4 separate regions of the Homo sapiens genome follow, and all the other regions are linked to region 4. The links come from fine-mapping of genetic effects on gene expression. A gene starts in region 4. Each other region holds a variant in brackets. All regions are shown on one strand. Distances are between the middles of the regions.

Region 1 (5,151 bases), 120 kb before region 4:
AATCACTTGAACCTGGGAGGCGGAGGTTGAAGTGAGCCGAGATCGCACCACTGCACTCCAGCCTGGTTGCCAGAGTGAGACTCCGTCTCAAAAAAAAAAAGACTCATCGTTCTCAAATGAGTCAAATCATACAAAATATTATTTAATTAAATAGCCACCTACCTCATAACTTTCCTATAAGGATGTGATAAAGAACACTATTTCCTCCTAAAAAAAAACGTGATTGGAAATTCATATATGCTTAACCACGGGTACTAACACTAGAGTTGTTTTTGTCAAAATGCAAATACGGCATCTTAAATATTTTTGAGTTTAGCAGAAGCCAATAATGTTTTAATGTTGCAAGTGTGCAGTGTGAAGACATGCTAAACTCACAAATGTTTAAGATCTCATATTTGCATTTGGCAAAAACAACTTTAATCTAGCCTAATAAAAGTAATTTGTTAGAACGAGTAACCAAACAACTATGGAAAGCACCTGCTCATGGGATCAAATGATCCAGAGACTCAAATGACATCAACACTCTTTCCTAATTTCTTTCCCTGATCCTATTATTCTCTCAATTCTCTTCCATGGGATACAGAACTTGGCCACCACAGGCCAGGGGTTAAATCCTTATAACTCACAAGTAAACTTATAACTCACAAACTCACAATGTTTGTTTATAAACATTGGTTAATGGGTACAAAGATACAATTAAAGAAGAGGGAAAAAATTCTGATGCTCTATTGCACGGTAGGGTGAAAATGGTTAACAGTAAAATTTTGTATACCACAAAATAGAAGAGAGGCTACTGAATGTTCTCACCACAGAGAAAGGATAAATGCATGAGGTGGTGGATACACTACCTTGATTGGATCGTTATACAACATAGATATGTATCGAAACATCAAATTGCACCCCATAAATATGTACAATTACAACGTGTCCTCAAAACAAAACAAAAAGCAAGCAAACCACCAGACCAGACCTTCTACTTGGCTTGTTCATGGGTGTATCCTAAAATCATTAAAGGAAAGATTTCTGGGAGACTTTATAGTGTGAGGGGTCAGACGGCTGACCGCACCTGCACCCACAGGTCAGGGGTAGGCATCACTCACACGGGGACAGCCAGCGGATACACTACTCTTGCTGAGGTGCAGTAAGCACACACCCTACCACTGTGTTTGAAGCCGTGCGGGCGTCAAAACAAAACACAACACAACCAGAATCTAATGAGTCCATTACCCCTAACCATAAATTTTCAAGAAACATGGAGGCTAGAGAAACAAGTTAAACGACACCATCAGTAAGTAATGGGCCAAATCCCAAGATCTGCGACAATCCACAGGGCAAATATCCCTCAGTATACGAATGACGTGAAGAAAAACGAGGCGAGGGCAATTAGAGGACAATAGACACCCAGGGTCGTAGCAACCGAATACAACCTGGGACCTTGTTTGGATCTCTATGACAATTCGACTGTAATAAGGAATTTCTGAAATAAGGAAATTTGAAAGTAGACTGAATATTAGGTGCCATGAAGGAATTACCTTAACTTTTCTAGGTGTGATAATGGTCGGTTAATTACTTTTTTAAAAAAAATTACTCATCAGAGGAAGTTAATGGTGAAACGACCTGTTCTAAAGGTGCGCGCCGACCCCGGGCCGGCCCTCTCGGTGCCGCAGCAGCCTCGTTATCGGGGCGTCTCCAGCTCGCCTGGGCGCTGGACCCCGCCGCGCGCTCAGAGGCGGCCGCAGCATTGGCAGCTCCCGGCATGCTCCGCGGGCTGAGCTCCGCGGCACGAGAACTCAAAGCCCCCGGCCTGGGTCCTACGCGGGGCCCTTTACCCAGGGTGCCCCGGGCGCTCATTTGCATGTCCCACCCAACAGGTAAACCTGACAGGTCATCGCGGCCAGGTACGACCTGGCGGTCAGAGCACCAAACATACGAGCCTTGTGATGAGTTCCGTTGCATGAAATTCTCCCAAAGGCTCCAAGATGGACAGGAAAGGGCGCGGTTCGGTCACCGTAAGTAGAA[T/C]AGGTGAAAGACTCCCGTGCCTTATAAGGCCTGTGGGTGACTTCTTCTCAACGTGCTCGCTTCGGCAGCACATATACTAAAATTGGAACGATACAGAGAAGATTAGCATGGCCCCTGCGCAAGGATGACACGCAAATTCGTGAAGCGTTCCATATTTTGCGCAGTCTGTCAAGATCATTTCAGTATCTGCTAATTAGTACTAAGGAAACAGTGTGAATCTAAGCGAAAACGTGTGGCACCCAATGACGAAACAGTGGTTTTCATTACAAAAAATTTGTGAAATCTATGAAGTGGGAACGAAGCAGAGTCACCCGAGGAATGTTGTGTGCGAATAGATCGTTAATACGCATTTTGGAAATGGAAAAAGGTCACCTTGTGCCTTCTTCATTGAACTTTTCATTCTGAAATAGACTTACGGTCTTGTCTCACCAAACAACACAAACTCCAGAGCCCCAGCTTGTTTGGCTTTTGTTCAGTAGAAGACCAACTGGCATATGAATTGTTCAATAAATCCTTACTAAATCTTTCCTAACCTAATAAATCTCTACTAAAGGAAGGAAACATTAGCGCTCATTTCTTGCGCCTACTTTGTGCCATTCTCCATCATCTTAGACCTGAGTGCTTACACCCTTTCTCTTAGACTGCGAGCTGCACAAAGGAAAGGAATGTTACTAAGGGCTGGTATTATTGGAAATCAATGTTGGCCTTTGCCTATAGATTCAAGAGCTCCAGGACCCATGTGAATACTGGCCACAAGTAGCAAGCCCATCTGGATCTGTTTTCACGAGTCTTCTGTTTTCATGTATCCTCTAAGAAGTACTTAGAAAGGGCCGATTTACATAAATCGGACAGATTCTGTGATGGGAAATTTGATTAGGAGGAATGTTCATTGCCCAGCCTGAAAGCATATTTTAATCAATGAAAACAAGTATTTGGACGCAGATACGAGGATCACCTAGGTAACTTAATAGTAACGTAACTAGGCGCCTCGAAGATGGAGGCTGTCGAGGAAGTGTGCCCACTGTGCGACAGGACTGGTGGGAGGCCCGGACAGCATCGTAGGTGTCTACTGGGCCAAGCTCGCGAGCAGGAAAATGCAGGCCCCGAGAGATCTTGAACAACCTCTAGGAACACCACCGTATCTTGCCCAACGACCTTCGTTGAACCGCGCAAAATATGGAACGCTTCACGAATTTGCGTGTCATCCTTGCGCAGGGGCCATGCTAATCTTCTCTGTATCGTTCCAATTTTAGTATATGTGCTGCCGAAGCGAGCACGCAAATAAGTCCGTCCCCAGGTCTTATAAGGCACGGGAGTTTCTCATTTGTTTTCCTTACGGTAACCTAATCGAGCGCTTTCCTGTCCATCTTGGAGCCTTTAGGAGAATTTCATGTAACGGAACTCATCACAAGGCTCGTAAGATTGGTGCTCTGACCGCCAGGCCGTATCTGGCCGCGACCGATCTGTCAGGTTTACCTGTTGGGTGGGACATGCAAATGAGCGCCCGGGGCACCCTGGGTAAGGGACCCCGCGTGGGACCCAGGCCCCGGGGCTTTGATTTCTCGTGCCGCGGACTTCAGTCCGCAGAGCATGCCGGGAGTCTGGCAGTCCGTGCGGCAGCAGTGGAGCGCAGAGGACAGGGCCGGCCTGGAGCGCTTGGCGTCTCCCCGAAGTCTCTCTGAGAGCTGGGGAGGCGGTTGGCCCGCTAGGTCACTAGGTCGGGCAGGGGTCTTCCCCCAAACATGGAAGTTTTCACCGATATTTCGCCGGTGACATTGGGGCCTTGTGCCAACAGACTTTGCTGAAGTGAACCCAAAGTTCAACCCTCCGGGAGAGTCCTTGCAACGATTCGGCCACTCAGTTCTGGAGCCGTCGGCACTACATTCTAAGTTGCGGTGGACTCCACTGGCATCTGCGTGACTATCTCCGGCCGGTGTGCATAGGCGCCCGTCGGGTCGGGGGCTGAGGACCTTGGACAGGGCGGCCACACCCCTCTCGTACAGCAGCGCCTCTGTCCATTCTGCGCAGGCGCCTCTGGGGTCAGGGACGGAGGAACCCGGGCGAGTAGCCACGCCCCTTCACAGGTGTCTTCCCTCGACCGCTACTTTCGCCCCTGGCAGCCAAACACAGGAACGCTGAAAAACAGGCTGAGAGGTGGATTTGAGGAATTACATCGTTCACTTAGAGTTGAACTGGAGAAGCATTCTTGTACGTCCTTATACCTCCCTGCACTCTCATCCTAACCCTGTTAGGATACAAAAGTACGGGACAGACCTACTCGTAAGAAATACTGTTAGTGTTAAATATTCTGATTTTTAACTACAGCAAAAATCGTACTGTTCAAGTCATATCCCTGAGCGTTGTGAGATGAGGGCCAAAGATCAAAGCCTCTGGTATTTATTTGGTTACAGTATTTCATATATTGAAGAAAGTAAAGGGCAAATGTTTGCCTGTGTTGCGTTAAAACGGCACGTTGAATGAGGAATATGGCACATTTACCAATAACTGGAGTTTTGCTTTTTCTCCTTCCTGTGGTCGTTTTACCCCTTCCTGTAACAATATTTTGAAGTAAGAACCTACTAAAAATCAGTAATTGAGAAAAATTTTAATTGGTATCCAATTTTCTGATGTACCAAAAGAAAATAGTGTGAAATCATATACGAGTTTCTGGTATTGCTGAGCCAAAAACAGAAAGAGGAACAGAAAGTTAAGCCCACAGGAATTATTGCTAACCCTATGTTTTTCTGTGTTTGAGGTTATAATTCTTTTCTTTCACAGCTTTTGAAAAGTAATAGAAACACTGTTCTTTCCCCCTCAAAAAAATTAGGCAAAAACGACATTCCTGTTGAGTTAAATTTTCCAATTACAAATAAAATGTGCTTTGATATATTTCTTCTAACGCCCTGTCTTTCCAATAAGCTATTTCTGCTTTGTGACTTCAAAGCTAGGAAGCAGTAAATTGATGTTCAATTTTATGATTGTAGAAGTATATCAAAATTCTTTCATGTTCTCTCTTAAAAACCTTACAACTAATCAGTTTATTAAAGGATACATGGTTAGAAGAATCTATAGTTAGAAGGACGATCAGAGTTACAGGGTCATGAACTTGATGTCCCTACAAGCTATATGCGC
Region 2 (5,151 bases), 130 kb after region 4:
CCTAGTCCCAGCCTACTACCATTCATTGAATGCCTTCACTGAGTGCGTCAGGCACTGTGCTAAGAAAAGACATGTATCACTTCACTTTATCTTCACAGGAGTTTACTACGTAGGTATTACCCACATTTTGCAAATGAAGAAACCACAGCTTAGAGATTAAGTAACTTGCTTAAGATCACATTGCAAAAGTGGGGATTTGAACTCAGGCTTGACTGATTCCAAAATGTGTAGTTCCAATAATTATAGCCCACTGCCTTATCAGTATACTTGAGAACACAGTAGGCATTCAATACTTGAGAACACAGTAGCCATTCAATACTTGTATGTTTAGTGAATTTAATTGGAGAGAGGTCAGCATGCTGCTGGAAGAGCACAATGACTGTCACCCTGGTCCTGTCACAAACCTCACACTGCTCTGGAGTCCTTTGACAGGGGTAGGCACCAGAAGTATCAGCGTCATTCCTGCTTGCAGCTTTCGAAAGAAACTCCATCCTGGTTCTACTGTTAGGCCCAACTACAGCTTCCCCTCACTCTCTTCCTCAATCCATTTCAGACACCCATTTCTCTCCAACAAAAACCCGGCGCTGAACTCATCTCTATAGATGGTGAAGTCAGGAAAGAGAGTGGGAGTGGCTATGAAAACCTCTCAGATTCTGACCTCAGATGCACAGACATGAGGGAACAAGCCCTGCAGACCTGACTAAACCTGGTTAACCTTTTGTGCTGTCCAAAGCACCGATGGTAAAGAACGCCAGAGGGATTCTCAGATGCTGAGAACAGATTCCAAGAGCTCTGAGAGGCATGGAAGGAGGGGCCATGTGCTGCCGGGAGAAGTGAGGACCTTTGTGATCAGTCCTACGTCAGGGGCAGACGGCCCCAGTACTTAGGTCTATCCAGGCTGGCACTGTCCACGTGTGGCCATTGAAATGTGGCTGGTGTGAATTGAGATGTGCTGTAAGTGTAAAACACATGTACGATTCCAAAGACTTAGCATGAAAAAGGAATGCCAAATATCTCATTAATCATTTTTTATGTTGATGACTGTTAAAATAAGATTTTGGAGGGTTAAGTTAAATAATATAGATTATTAAAATTAATCTCACCTGTTTCTAGTTTTTTCAATGTGGTTATAATATATGAAGTTACATAAGTGACTCACCCTTGTGCCCTGTATTATATTCTCACTGGACAGAGCTGATCTGTAGCCCCAGACTGTTTCAGACCATGCCTTACCCCACCAACCAGGGTCCAGCTGCTGGGGCTCAGCTCTATCCTAGCTTGGGTCTCTGCACAGTGGCAGCTTTGGTGACCAATATACTCTGTAACTGCTGTAATTTAGGGGTGTCCCTGACTCTGAAGCCAACTGCAGAGGTTGAGAATAAGAAATAACTACATTTTCATGCATTCACTCACATTTCTCCTCCCAACCCACCACTCTAACTGTCTTTCTTTTAGCACAACTGTTGTAAATACATGATCCCCAGAACAGCAGCATCGCATCACCTGGGAACTCATTAGAAATGCAGATTACCAGGTACCATCCAGAAACTCTGAATCAGAAACTGTGCCCAGCAATCTATGCTTTAACAAGACCCTCCCCACGAGGACATTATTCTGATGAATTCTAATGTTTGAGAACCAGGGTCTTAGGGCACTGTTTCTGAAACTTTGTAGTGTATTAAAATCATGTGGGGTGCTTTAAAAAATTCCAATGCCCAGGCCACACCCCAGGTCAAGTAAATCAGGTTCTGTGGGGGTAGAACCCAGGCATCGGATGGATGTTTGGAAAACTCTCCACTGATTCCAATGTGCAGTCACAGTTGAGCCCCATTGCCTAAGGGTAAAGAACTCAAGAATATTAGTCGGCCATTTTCCCTATGGTGGAGAGCCTGTAGCTTTGAGCCCCGTAGAGAGAAGCCTTCCTGTGGGAGGAGAAAACAGTGTGTAAAATGAAGAAAGGGGCCAAACTGGGCATGCCTAAGCTTCGAAGGCCTCTTTCATTATAGGCTAGCTGCTGTAATGAAACAGGCAATTGCACCTGAGATTTTTCTGAAGTTGAAATGACCACGTGGAAAGGGAACAGCTTCTCTCCACAGTCCATCAAGAGGGGAGTGGCCAATGGGCCGCTTGGAGGACAAAGACCAGGGACACGCCCATTATCTGAGGCTTCAGGTATATTAAAATGAAGAAATCCCCAAATAGGGTTTCAAAAATTGTGATATACTATATTTTAGAAGTTTACATTTAATAAATTAAGGCTTTAACACGTGTAAGCTTTAAAAAAAAAACGCACAGGGTAATATAACCATCCTATTCACGGGATAATGGCAGGATTAATCTTAAAAATTCATGGGCCTGGTACCAAAATCAGGCATAAGTTTAAAGCTGATGATCATTTCCATCTTTTCAGTCTTATTAGCATATCTTCAGAGATAAATTTTTAAAAATCCAAATGTGAAGTCTCTGTGAGTGTGAGATCCCTGGATGAAAGGCCCTCCTTTGCCATGCCCCTGGGGCAGACTAAGAGGACCGCTGGAAAGAGATCCTAAGTGTGGCCCTGGAGCAGCTGTGAATGATTAGGTTGTGGGAAGACAACTGACATCTGGGTGCCTTGCGGCAGCCTGACCAGGGAGGTGGTGTCAGGGAAGCCAGAGCACCCCCCTTCCTCAGTGTGTTCCAGAGCAGTACAATACCTGCCTCCCTACACATAATGGATGCCTGCCCACCACCCTCTGTCCTCAGGCACACTTGGCTGCTGACAACAGGAAGTGAAACAGCCACACCCTCCTTTGACCCTATTAAGGTAACTCCTAGTTTGATACAGAGGCTTCCGGGGAGGGAAAGAAATAAGGGAGACACTTACCTTGTGCAGCACCTGCAGTGCTGTTGGTTTATAAAAGCACGAAATCTTCTGTCCCAGAGGCTGGACTGGGCTCATGACTGCATGTGAGATTGTGCTTTGGGAAGAGAAAGCAATCCCAGACTGAACAACAATTTTCTGGTGGCAGGTGCATCCATGAGGAGCTGCAGTC[G/T]GTCCCAGCAGCATATGCTTTCTCCTCTGGGAGGGCAACTCGGAGACGTGCAGACTAACGGGACCACTGGCTGCAAGCCTCAGAAACCTCTCAGGAGGTCCCTGGCAAGGCCTGTGGTATCTGGGCAGTGCAGGCAGCCTGGGCACCATAGGACAAAGGGGCGGGGAGTGGGGCAGGGAAGAAACAGCACAGAGGAAACAGCACACCTTGTTCTCATTGACTCGGAGTCAATGGCTGCCCACAGACTCTATTTCCTGGAGATTCAAGCCTCACACTGTCCTGTCCTCTCCCCTGAGTAAGTCTTCCAGAGAGTAAGAGCCACACCCAGGCAGAGGTGGGTGAGGCTGGGGTTCAAAGTACAGAGCCAGCCCTTTTATCTCATAGGCAGAGGAAATCATCCACTGTAAACCCACAGCGTCCTCCACCAGGGCAGCGTTTGATTCCTCCGTCTCATATCTCCGCTTGCCTTCCCTGTGGGTCAGTAGTTCCTGAGTTTCTCTAGCCTATAGAAAACATGAGGAGGAGGAGGAGAGATGGAGGGGGAGGAGGAGGAGAAGAGAAGGGAAGAATGAGCACATGGACTGCCCAGCCCCAGCCCCATGGCACCAGCATGGTAAACACTTGGAGGGAGGCCAGCCGTCTGGCGCCTCCAGTCTTCCACATCACCCCAGCCAAGATTCAGACCTGTATATTCTGGGCTCTTTCTGCCCCATTTCACCCAGGCTTTAAATTACCCAGACTTGGGTCTGGGTTATTCTATCCAAAACTTTCCTCTGAAATCTAGATTGTGATGCAATGTATACGTTCTCTAAATCAGATTTCTGAGGACTAAATGCCAGACCGCGTGGCGTAGCAGTCTGGCTGCAAACCATTTCCGTCAGCCCAGCGGAGGAACGCACAACAAGGTGCTCATCCCCGCAGCCGTGCACAGGAGACAGCAACGGTCCAGGTAAATTAGAAAGGCCTAACTTGAGCCAGCTAGTCATGGCAATTTAGGGAAAGTAAGGACTACACAGAGGCTCTGGGACGGCTTGCGGAATCAATGCCTAAGTTGCTGGATTGCTCCTTCTTTGGCTATGGAGCTAGTGGTTCCAAAATCTACCCCTTGATTCCTTAAGATGGAAGACCATTTAGACAAGCTGAGCCAAAACCCAGAGTCTTGGAACAAGCCTGTAACAATAATAGCAGCAGTAATGACAATGATTTTTAATATTCCTTGCTTAACAAGTGCTGGCCACAGTTCATGTTTTACATGGATTTACTTGGGGAATTTGATCGCTGGATCGAGGTGAGGACCATCCTCACTCCTCAGCTCCCCGGAGGACAGTCCCTTCCCCTCTGCTAGTCCTTTGACACAGACCCATTTTGACTTTTCAACTTCAACATTCTAGTTCAAGTCTTGGCCAGCTGTCAGCCTGGGCTTGTTTCTTCTCATCACAAGAAAAGAAACAGGGCTGCGAAGAGTAGCAAGCCCCTGACTGCTGCCCTTAAATGAGCTAGCCTTTAGGAGAAACACCCGAAGGTCAGGAGGCAAGCACTGTTTGCTCATGGCTATTGTTCCTCTGGGGAGCTGTGAGGGTGGGGTGAGTGGGGGAGGGTCTCTCATTTTGTGACTACACAGTATATAAAAAGCTGAAATGAAAATAATTCAGAAATTATTGTTGTCTTTATAAAACAACCTGTTCTGGGGTACCTTTCTGTACTTCCCTAAGTATATTTAAAACACAATTTTAAAATTCAATTTAACAAAGCCCCATCAAGACACATGCACTGCATCGTGCACATCTGTATAAATGCTCTTAAAGTGCAGGTTTGCATGAACCTTATTTTTCTAGAGGAGTGTGTCCTCTTGGGGAAAGAGGGAAAGAAGGCAGTAAAAATAGCATCGTGTCGCTGCTGACTGTGCATTGGCCACACAGCTAAGCACAGAGTGCCTAGAGAGCTTTGGCAGGATCATCACATGTTGTCCTCACAACAGACCCATGAGGGAGGTATCTCATCCCAATTTACAGATGAAGAAACTGAGGCTCAGGAAGATCAAGTGACGTCTTCATTATCACACAGCCATTAAGAGCTGAGCTTGGTGGGAACTCAGGCTTCCGCGACTCTAAAGACTAGA
Region 3 (5,151 bases), 58 kb after region 4:
TATACACATATATACATATATACATATATATACATATATACACACATATATATACATATATATGAAAAATATATATATAATATATATTTTTTTGTGAGACAAGGTCTCACTCTGTCACCCAAGATAGGGTATGGTGGCATGCTCACAGCTCACTGCAGTCTCCACCTCCTGGGCTCAGGTGATCCTCCACCTCAGCCTCCCAAGTAGCTGGGACTACAGTGTGAGCCACCACGCCCAGCTAATTTTTACTTTTTGTAGAGATGAGGTCTCACTATGTTGCCCAGGCTGGTCTCAAACTCCTGGATTCATGTGATCCTTCCGCCTCAGCCTCCTAAAGTGCTGGGGTAATAGGCGTGAGCCACTGCACTCAGCCATCTTGTCCTTATTAAGCCAGGGTTTAAGCCCTGCCTTCTCTGGTTCTAGCTGCTCTGTTGGCTTTGTTCACCATGTACTGCTTCCTCCTCTAGTAGAGATGAGATGCTCCCTCCTAAGAGGCTCAGACTGATTTTCTTTAATCTGTCCTGGGAGCATTCTTAAATAGACTGTGGGCCTAATAGCAGCCTCATGTGTGGAAATCAGGACTTAATGGGGGGAGGGTGTGTAATTAAGCCCTCGTCCTACTTCAACTGAGCAGGATCTAGTTCTGCAGGCCTTCCTGGCTCCCATAGGGCTGGCTGCAGTATGTAAACATCTTATGGGAGGCAGGGGTCCCAATCTGGCTGCTACTGGGATCTCTCTGAGAGAGGAGAAAGAAAGAAACTGGTCAAGAAGGGAGTTAGGGTGAGTCCTCAGTTGAATTCTTTCAAACAAAAGAACAGCCTGAAAACTCAAGCTGCAGGCACAGATAAGGGAACGTGCACAGGGTGGGGGGCTTACCTAAGATATGTCCACAGCTGCACAGATAAGAAAGGCTACACAGGTGACTTGCCCAGACATGCCCGCAATGGAAAAATCCTGTCCTCTAGCACATGCTCAGTAAAGGGAACAAAGCAGTATGGAGTAACTCAAGCTAAGGGCCCACATGCGCACTAGAATGACAGGGTGGAGCTACCAGAAATCTGTGCCTTATGCAAATGAGACACCCAGCCCTCAACAGTTTCTTGTAAAAGCCTTTACATTGAACTGTAAAAGCAGCAACCTTCTTCCGGGCTCTATCGCTGAGGCGGAGAGCTTTCTTCTTTCACTTATGAAACTTTTGCTCCAACCTCACCCTTTGTGTCCACGCTCCTTAATTCTCTTGGTTGTGAGACAAAGAACTCCGGGTGATACCTCACAATGAGAGACTGCTAAATTGTTGTGCATTGGCGAGACTATAACATCTTCAACCTCCAGGTGCCATAGCACAGAGGCTCTGCTGGGAATCCAAGGCCACCATGTGAGGGTATGGAGGGGAGGATTGAGTGGCCCCTAAGGATCCCAAGTGCTTTCTTGCCAAGATCACAGCAAAGCTGCTCCACCTGTGCCCCCCAGTGCACTTCTGTTTCTTCTGGCAAAGTTTGTTCTCCATGCTTCTTTGTTTTCCAGATCATATCTGGGCAGACTGTTCTAAAAAATGTTGAAGACAATGATATTGTAGAATGACAGAGGAAGGAAGAATTATAAAAGTAGAAACTCTGGGACTCCCTTTTCTTTAGAAAATTGGCTTCTTGTTGGGTGCCTTACTTTTCTGTTTCTATATCCAACTTAGATGATAAGCCCCTAAGGATTTCTGTGGTTCTGTTCCTCACTGAAACCACTACAAAATTACAGTAAAAAATAAGGATAATGAAAAGAGGATCACTTCATAGCCTTCCTCGGTTCTGGAATTAAATCCAGCTCAGGTCAGGAATGAGCCATGAGATCCAGTAGTTTTCACCCATTATCAGACTTCAATAAAATTATTTTCAGTATTTCCAATGTAGACCTGTAGATGGTTTTCTATCATATAAAATTCAGAATGACAAAGAAGGTTATCTAGAGAAATTTAGAAGAAAGAAAGATACATTCACCTATTGCCTGAATCAGTTTTTATTTTTTAAGCATATCAATGTATTTATTATTTAGCTAAACACCCACATGATGTCGCATGTAAGGATCAGCACATTGCCATGGGCCCCATTCTCAGAAGAGAATGGACCCTTCTGGGGTCCAAGCTGACATGAATAATTTAGGTTATTAGGGTGCTGGTTAATGAATTGTCCCAATGTTTGGGCACCCTATGTCCCTGCTAACTCCCTGGCAGGGCTTCCTTGAGAGAACAGTTTAACTCAATGT[A/G]CTTAATAGATATATTTCCATGTACTATGAGATGACTCAGGGCTGGACAGTAACCTGGGTTTTTAGAACAATAAGAAAGAAAAATGGAAGCTCGTCGGTGGCTTTTCCAGCCCACAGTGTTAGCCTTGCCTAAGCCCTCTCTCCAGCTAAACAACCGTTTTCCCCCCAGTGCTTCCTGAGTCCTTATTCCTTTTACTGAGAAGCCAGAAAAAGAGGTCAGCGCAAACGGGTGCTGAAAAGAAAAAAATCCTGGCTCTCTTTTAACCAAGAAAAGCAGAGCCTTTCTGAATTCTGGCTCTGACACAGAAAAGCCCTGTCTCTAAGTCCCTGCTCGTGATGATTGCCTGGGGACTTGTCAGAAAAGTATTCTGGCTGATATTAACTGCCACGATCACGTATCCCGGGAGAAACACTTTCAAAGAACCCAGAGCCAGCTTTTTGGAAGCAAGTAGGCCAAGCAGCCTACTATACATCAAGTTTAAGTGAGAACATTTCTGTAAAAAGACTTTAAGACCTGCAAAGTCTTAGGTGTGTGCCTCGTACTGTGCCCAGCCCTCGAGCACTGAATGTAGAAGAAAACTCAGAAGACACGCTTCCTACCCTCCTCACTCCCTCCTAGAGCTTAGATTCTGGGAGACAGACAGGATCATTCTGTGCAAAATAATTAAACAATTAAATGTTTGACTGTGTGGCTGTAAGTAGAGTTATGCCAGGTGGCCATGAGAGACCACTGGGACTGAACTTGTCAAGAGATGGTTTGTGGAGAAGCCACAACCCCCATGGCTGGTGTTCTGTCAGGGAGATCACAAATTGGAAAGGATCAAGATGGGGCAACTTGTTTTATACACAAGGGATATCCATGTGGGTCAGGAATGCAATCAGACAACTTGTGTTGGTTTGACTCAAATTTTGAACTTAGTTCAAGATATGATTTATAGCTTCAAACACTTACCTACAAACACAAAGACACCAACAAAACAATTTGATTATTTAAAATAAACAATTGAGAGCTGGTTTAACTATAGCATGTGGGCTCATAAGAACTAATACGTTTGAGGTTCTTTTCACTATGAAGATGACAAGTCAGGACTTTAGTTTTCAGGAAACAAACATTTATAGCTTTGGTCACCTTCTTGCTAGAGAAACAATAGGAGGAGGGGCTGAATTCATTCCATCCATGTCTTTCACTTTGTCTCGATTTCTAAAGTAGTGAATGAGTTTTTAAGCAGCAGTTGCTGAATTCTTCTTTGCTTTGTCCTGACATGCAGACAATCTAAGAGGAAAATCAAGTCAGGGAAGTATTTAGAGAAGAATGCTGATGCCTGCAATTTGCTTTGAAATCGATAAAAAGATGGATTATTGGGTAAAGGGATGGATAGATATGTAGATATGTGACAAAGCAAGTATAGTAACATATTAATGATACATATAAGGCTGTGCATGTAAAATTATTTTAATTTCCAAATTTACTACAAAAAATATCATAATACTATGGTGGGAAAAAACTGAATCAGGGTTTTCTTTGTGTTGCCCTTTCTTCTAATAGTTAAAAATCATTATCTGAAAGGACACATAAATAAAAAAGCTTGGACTAAGTCCTAGACATAAATGAAAAGTAATAATTGTGTGTGTTATGTGTTTAAAGAACCCTCAAATCTATCTCTACTAGCCAACTGTTGATGCTAGGTATTCTGCTATTAGAAACACAGTCTTTTGAGCTAAGGGCTTATTCTGTAAAAACCTCTTGGAATTCTTGGAGAACTACCAGATTAAATTCAATTCGTCATTAATACTCTACTGCAAATCAATTTAAGTGATCACTTCAAAGTAATACAGAGCTAAAAGGTTTGGAATAAAGGAGAGGGAGAAAGAGAACATAAGCACCAAATGTCTTAGGGGAGGAAAGGGAGATGCTGAAAGATGATCTGTAGAGGCATTAAAGATCAACTTCACCTTCTTTACAGGGTTACTCTGGGCCAAACTAAATCCTGATATTAGTGTTTGCTGCTCTTGAATTCTATATTTAGAATTTCTGAAGCTCCAGTGAAGGTGTCCTATGGCACTTTAAGAAGGCTGTTGAACTGCCTTTCTGTAGTTCTTGCTGCTTGATACTAAGGACTGAAGCCCAAATCTTACTCCACAGGGGATGCTGTGGACCATGGGCTGTTTATCTGTGGTTAGGTTTAAACTTTGACTTACTTTCCCTCTATGGAGGGGAATATTTTCTTTTCTTTTCTCCCTCTGTTTTTTTTTTTTTTTTTTTTTTTTTTTGAGACAGAGTCTTGCCCTGTTGCCCAGGCTAGAGAGCAATGCTGTGACCACAGCTCCCTGCAGCCTTGATTTCCCTGGCTTAAGCAAACCTGCAGCTTCAGCCTCCTGAGTAGCTGGGACTACAGGCATGTGCCACCACACCTGGTTAATTTTTTAATTTACTGTAGAGGTGGGGTCTCACTATGTTGCCTAGGCTGGTCTCGATCTCCTAGGCTCCAGCAATCCTCCTGTCTTGGCCTCCCAAAGTGCTGGGATTACAGGTGTGAGCCACTGCGCCTGGCCCATATTTTCATTTTTTACATTACTCTATTTTTCTTTCTTTAGAGACATTTTTTCCTTAGCTGGTTTCTTCAGAAAGTAGAGTCTGAGGCAAGGGTTTACGTGCCACGATTTTGTTAGGGAGCATACATTAAGGATCGGGAGAGAAGGATAAATAACGTGAGACAGAAAAGGAGATAAAACCAATACAGGTACAAGGAAGTGTATTGAACTGGCTACCACTAAGGACAACGGATTGTTTGATATCACAGAGTTATCTTCAATGAAGCCATGTAAAAAATGTCTCAGGAATGTCTCTTTCGGTGAGAAAACGGGAAGAATTTATCCCCTGCTCCCATATCTCATTGG
Region 4 (5,151 bases):
TGAAGTTCAGGAGTAGATGTGCAGGTTTGTTTTAAAGGTAAACTCATGTCAAGGGGGTTTGTTGTTACCCAGGTATTAAGCCTAGTACCCATTAGTTATTTTTCTTATATTTAAATAATAAATATTTTTCTTATATTTAATTAAGTTAAATATTCTTATATTTAAATACAATACACTTAATACATGAAAATAGAAGCTGTCCTGGTTTGGGAGGGTGGGTTGTCATAGGAAGTCTCAAGGCATCTAGGAAAAAAACCCACAGGAATCCAAGGAACAGAGTTTGAAAACCAATTAAAGTTCATACTTAAAATTCTTAGCATTGAAGCATTTTTCTTAATTTCTAATATGGTTTTTCCTATTTCAATAAAATAATCGACAAAAGCCTGCACTTAAAACAAGAGCCTGATTACTCAAATTACTGAATGATGAATCTACTGATGTTTCTTCACAGGTCTTTTAGAAATTAAATTCCCTTGGTGTACTTTAAATATATAATACAAGTATCTTTTAGGAACATAGACATCACTAAAACAACACTGTACAATGCTTCTTCAGCCAATTATATTACTACACACCTTCTTGGTATGCAAAGAAAAAACTGTGGACCATACAACCCAAATAAATAGTTCTTAAAATAGTATCTATGGAAACTACAGTTGCGACAAAACTTATTCTGTAGCTACCAAGAAAATCTCTATTATGCCATTTCATATTTAAGAAGTGACCACTAAAGGCCAACACTCATCTTACATCCTGCCAATGTTGGTAAAGTTTAGTAAAGTCTTTATGAGACCTAACTTTTTCTTCAATTAAAAAAAGTGAGTTAGAAAACTTATTATCGCTACTTCAAATCCAAAAAAGGAATGCAAATACAATATTCATTCCTTAAATAATCTTAACTTTCAAGGTCAAAATAACTCTCCAAAAAAATGACTGTGCTAATATGCTTTTCAAACACAAATAAGAAGGGGAGACGGTTTTCAAAACATTTAGGATAAGTATCTTGTGACAGAATTAAGGTAATAATTTTGCAACACATTTTAAAAATTGCTAAGGTCGTTTAAATGGGGAGGGACACTACAAAACTCATAAAGATAACAGAATTCTGCCGCAATTCTTACATCAAAGTGTAACCCACCTCACTCCCCAGTACTCTTAATAATTAATGTACAAAGAATGGCAAAATAAGACATGTTGATCTAGGTTTAAAAACACAGCCTACACAAGACAACCAAATCAATAGTTATTTAATCATCTGTACCGTCTGATTCTGCTTTAAGTCAATTAGATCAATAGTGCTATTTCTTGAAAGTTACAAGCATAGGTATGCGCAGCCTTTCACTCCAGTGCGTTTAGTCATAAATTGCTCCAGTGTCTTTGCAAGTTTTTGGTGACACATACTTACCGCTCTTTGTACTACAGATAAAGGTAATGGAGGTCAATTAGTATACAAAGGATAGATGAAAGCAAAAAATGAGAAAGGAATTTAAAATGAAAGCAAAATCTTACTCAAGAAACTATCTAGTAGGTTACCTAGACGGTTAGTAATACTTATCTACAAACACTGAATAAGAATACCGTTTTATCGTATTACAGTACAAATAAACTAGAATTGACAGCAAAAGGTTTCATTAACGTATTTTTAAACCAAACATTATTCCAAATGTCTAATCGCTGCATCTAGATGAAATTTTTGTTAGGAGAACCATTTTAAGTGGAAATGTAGAGCAAGCTCCCATGAAGTGAACGAGATCCTTCATGCGGATAAACACCACCTAACATTCTAACTGAATACTGGTTCTGGATTTAAGTGGAATTGACAAACTCGCCCCCCGCCCCTACCTGTAGAAAGCAACATAAGCAAGTACTAGTAAATACAGCGAAGCATTTTGCTGTTTTACACCTGAACATTTAAAAAAAAATTCAGTTTCCTGCCTATCACAAAGGAAAAAATAAATGATCGATAAGAATTTAAACTTAAAACGTAAGCACAAACCCATCTATATGCCTATCTTGCTCTATCTCAAAATATTTGAATTCCCATTTATTAAGCGATGGCCAAATCCGAATTTCTATCACATGGTAGAAGTATAAGCGTCTCCCCTACAACTTTTTCGGGATTTTACTAAACGGCCTAATAACAGTTTGCCCTTACTTCCGTGCACCTTTCAACCTCAGCTACACCCCGAGCCTCCAGCTCTCTTGCATTTCTAATAACGCTGAAGAGGGAGGGTGAGAGGGAGTATTTCTGTGTGGATAAGTGCGCGCGCGCTCCCGCGCGGCTCCCCACCCCCACCCCGATACTTTTCTTTAGTGGAAAGAGAGGAAGAATCTGGAGGTTATTCTAGCGAAAACTCAGTATCAAAGCCTCAACCCAGTCGCAGTCAGCCCATAGGACTCTGGGCTCTGGATGCGCAGTGCAACTTCTCATATCTTACTCCAAGCTTCAAAGCAGATGGAAAATTGGTGAAGAGAACCCAGGGAGGAGTCGAGGAGATGAGGGAAAGTGAAAGGGCCGATCCCCCCTACAAGGCGTTTAAGTTTGCAACCGAGACTGTGTTTCCGCGAATCTGCACCCGCCCCGTGTACCCTTTCCAGGTGGAACTCGTTAACAGCAGCAACCCGGCCAACGGACACCGCCACCTCCCCTCTCGACGGACCACCCGAGACTCGAGCAAGTGAGGCGGCGGGCGAGAGCGGACGCCTGGCGGGGCCGGCGATCCCCGGCCAGCATCAGGCCTCCGCCGACCCTGGCCCCGTCACCTGTGGAGAAAGCACCCCCTCCCCCGGCCTCTCTGCCCTTCACGCCGAACGTATCCCTAACGCTGCAGCTGCTGCCCGCCCGGCCTGCGAAAACCGAGCGCAGCGCCAGGCTCCCCTCGGCGGCCGCGGGGCCCCAGCCCCTTCAACTGGTTACAACCGGCAGCGGCGACCGAGCGGGGCAGCTAGCCGCAGGAGGGTCCCCGTCCGGGAGGGGGCAGGCAGGCTTGGAGGAGCGGGGTCCGCAAGGTCCTACCTAACAACGTCGGTCTCCTCCGTCTCCTCCTCAACGGCAGCGGCCCCGGCGGTGGCGGCGGCAGCGACATTCCTGGGGACCGCTCCCGCCGCCGCCGCCTCCTCCTCCACTCTCCGCTCGCCTCTCTTCCTCGGCGCGCTCACCGAGCGGCGCGTCCCTTCAGCCACCTCCCCCCGCCCTCCCCGACACACACGCCCCGAAACCCTGAGCCCCACGGCTCCCGCAGCCAGCTCACCCACCCTCCCTCCCTCCCTCCCCGCCACCAGCGGCGGCCCGTCCCTCCCCCCTTCCCCAGCGCCCGCCGCCGCGCCGGGCTCAGTAATGGCGGCCACTCGGGCTCCCTCGCGCTGACGGATTTCTCTCCCTCTCTCCCGAACTTTACCTCAGCATCTCTCCCGGCGCGCGCAGCCACACACCCGACCGGGGGCGGAGCGGCGGCGCGGCGGCGCAGCCTGGACGGGACGCGCGCGCGCGCGCGAACCCGCGCTGCCCTCCCCACAATCCCCCGTCCCCGCCCCTTCACCTCGCGACGCCTCCCGCGCCGCGCACCCGGCACGGCCCCGCCCCTGCCCTCGTCTCCCGGGAGCCTGGGAAGGCGCGAGCTATCCAGTCGGAGGGAGGGGGACGAGCGCGCGGGGCCGCGTCCTCGCTCGCGTCCCCGCTCCCTCCTCCCCTCTGCTTCTCCCTCCCCTCCACTCCCCCATTGGCTTCTACCCCTCCCCCTTCTTCCTCCGCCTCTCCCACCATTGGTTCCCTCCCCTACTCCATTCCTTCTCACCTTTTCCCTTTTACCCATTGGCGTGAGTATTTTTCCTCAGCTTCCCTCTTTCTCCGTATTCTGCTCCTCCTCAGTCCCATCCTCCACGCTTTGGAAGCTACTGCCTTACTGCCCGGAGCGCCGTCGTCCCCGAACCTCCCCTGCTTCTCCCTTTCCTTCTGTTCCGGTTTCTGGTCGTAACTCAAGAGCAAACCACCGTACTGCAAAGGAACCAGATATTGTGCTCGCGGTTCCAAACCGGGCATGGGCACCGAATGCTTCTCGATAAATCCCCTTATGGTCTCTGAGCATTAAAGAAAGCAAGGGAGGAAAACATGCGCCCAAGCTCGTTCGCAGGAACATGTTCGCGTGTCTGCGCCTGTGTGCGCAGCCAGTTTTCTGGCTGAGGATCGCTCGCCAACTACAGACATCACCCGCCCAGGACCCGGTGCCACACTCACCCAGAAGACGAAACTCCACAGGAGCGAGAAGAGGAGTCCATTTCTCCGTCGGCTCGGCACGGCACGGGGATGCAGGCCCCTGATTCAGTACGTTCTGTGAAAGTGGAGCGAGAAGCCAAGACGTGGATCGAGAAGCCCCGTGGGGCGGGTCTCAGGGTGGCCCAAAAGACCCCTGTTCACGCCACTACCAGCCTAACTTTAGGAACTGTCGTCCACCTGGCTTTTATTATACTGCCTTAAACATATTCACTTTTTTGAGACTCTAGAAATTTCACAAGTTTTGGGGTAGAGCACACTGGGCTTTGGGTGTGTTTCTCATGAGGGCACTGACGCTGAATGGTGCAGTGAGAAAGGACGGTAGAAACCACTGCCTTTGCTTTTACCATTGAAGAAACTGAGGTCCTGTGACTTTCCCGAGGTCATCGGAATCTGCCTTGCACAGGAGACTTAAAATAGTTGCCAGCAGATAAAAGAATGAGCAAAACCACATCTACTCCAATTTGTTAAGTCTGAAAGAAAGTAATTGAGGGGGGATTCCTCTTTGGGGAAATATTTATTTCCTGCATTGAAAATAGTTTAATGTTAGTAAACATATAAAAAGTATTTTAAATTCAAGTTATTCTTTATTTCTTATGTTACATAAGGTACTGAAGTTAGCCAAGGTTGCTTTTGTGTTATAATGATGCAGCTGCTGCCAACCAGAAGTACATTTACGGTCTGTCAGTAAAGAAAACAAAAACTGCCTGTTGGTAAAAATCTATTAGAAAATATTTGTCAGTAAATTTGTCACAATATTCCAGCAGAAGTTCTGTTCGTTTTTCCGTCTTCCTGCCCTTCATATTTCTCAAAGGTAGACTTAATAAAGGTAGAAGAGACATTTCTAATTTTTCTATATATCTCTTGCTCCCTAATTTCTA

What was found.
Region 1: its variant is fine-mapped to the expression of ARHGAP5 in whole blood (INTERVAL, PIP 0.98).
Region 2: its variant is fine-mapped to the expression of ARHGAP5 in whole blood (INTERVAL, PIP above 0.99).
Region 3: its variant is fine-mapped to the expression of ARHGAP5 in whole blood (INTERVAL, PIP 0.98).

What each region holds. Positions count from the first base shown.
Region 1 is chr14:32,200,190-32,205,340 of GRCh38, reverse strand. It overlaps RNU6-7 (RNA, U6 small nuclear 7), which reads right to left and starts at 3,296; the gene lies at 3,190-3,296. RNU6-8 (RNA, U6 small nuclear 8) reads left to right here and starts at 2,072; the gene lies at 2,072-2,178. RefSeq lists enhancers at 1,357-1,901, 1,902-2,447, 3,545-3,604, 3,685-3,744 and a silencer at 2,088-2,267. The variant T/C (reference allele first, on the strand shown) is at 2,020.
Region 2 is chr14:31,942,821-31,947,971 of GRCh38, reverse strand. LINC02313 (long intergenic non-protein coding RNA 2313) reads right to left here and starts at 3,119. Exons shown (of 2, transcript NR_146544.1): 1 at 2,864-3,119. RefSeq lists an enhancer at 2,638-3,837. The variant G/T (reference allele first, on the strand shown) is at 3,033.
Region 3 is chr14:32,016,883-32,022,033 of GRCh38, reverse strand. No RefSeq gene overlaps it. Among named protein-coding and RNA genes, the nearest start is that of ARHGAP5-AS1, 57 kb to the left of the region's middle. RefSeq lists an enhancer at 562-1,761. The variant A/G (reference allele first, on the strand shown) is at 2,254.
Region 4 is chr14:32,075,301-32,080,451 of GRCh38, reverse strand. ARHGAP5 (Rho GTPase activating protein 5) reads right to left here and starts at 3,148. Exons shown (of 7, transcript NM_001030055.2): 1 at 3,017-3,148. ARHGAP5-AS1 (ARHGAP5 antisense RNA 1 (head to head)) reads left to right here and starts at 3,753. Exons shown (of 1, transcript NR_027263.1): 1 at 3,753-5,033. RefSeq lists silencers at 2,795-3,089, 2,888-3,107, 3,468-3,727.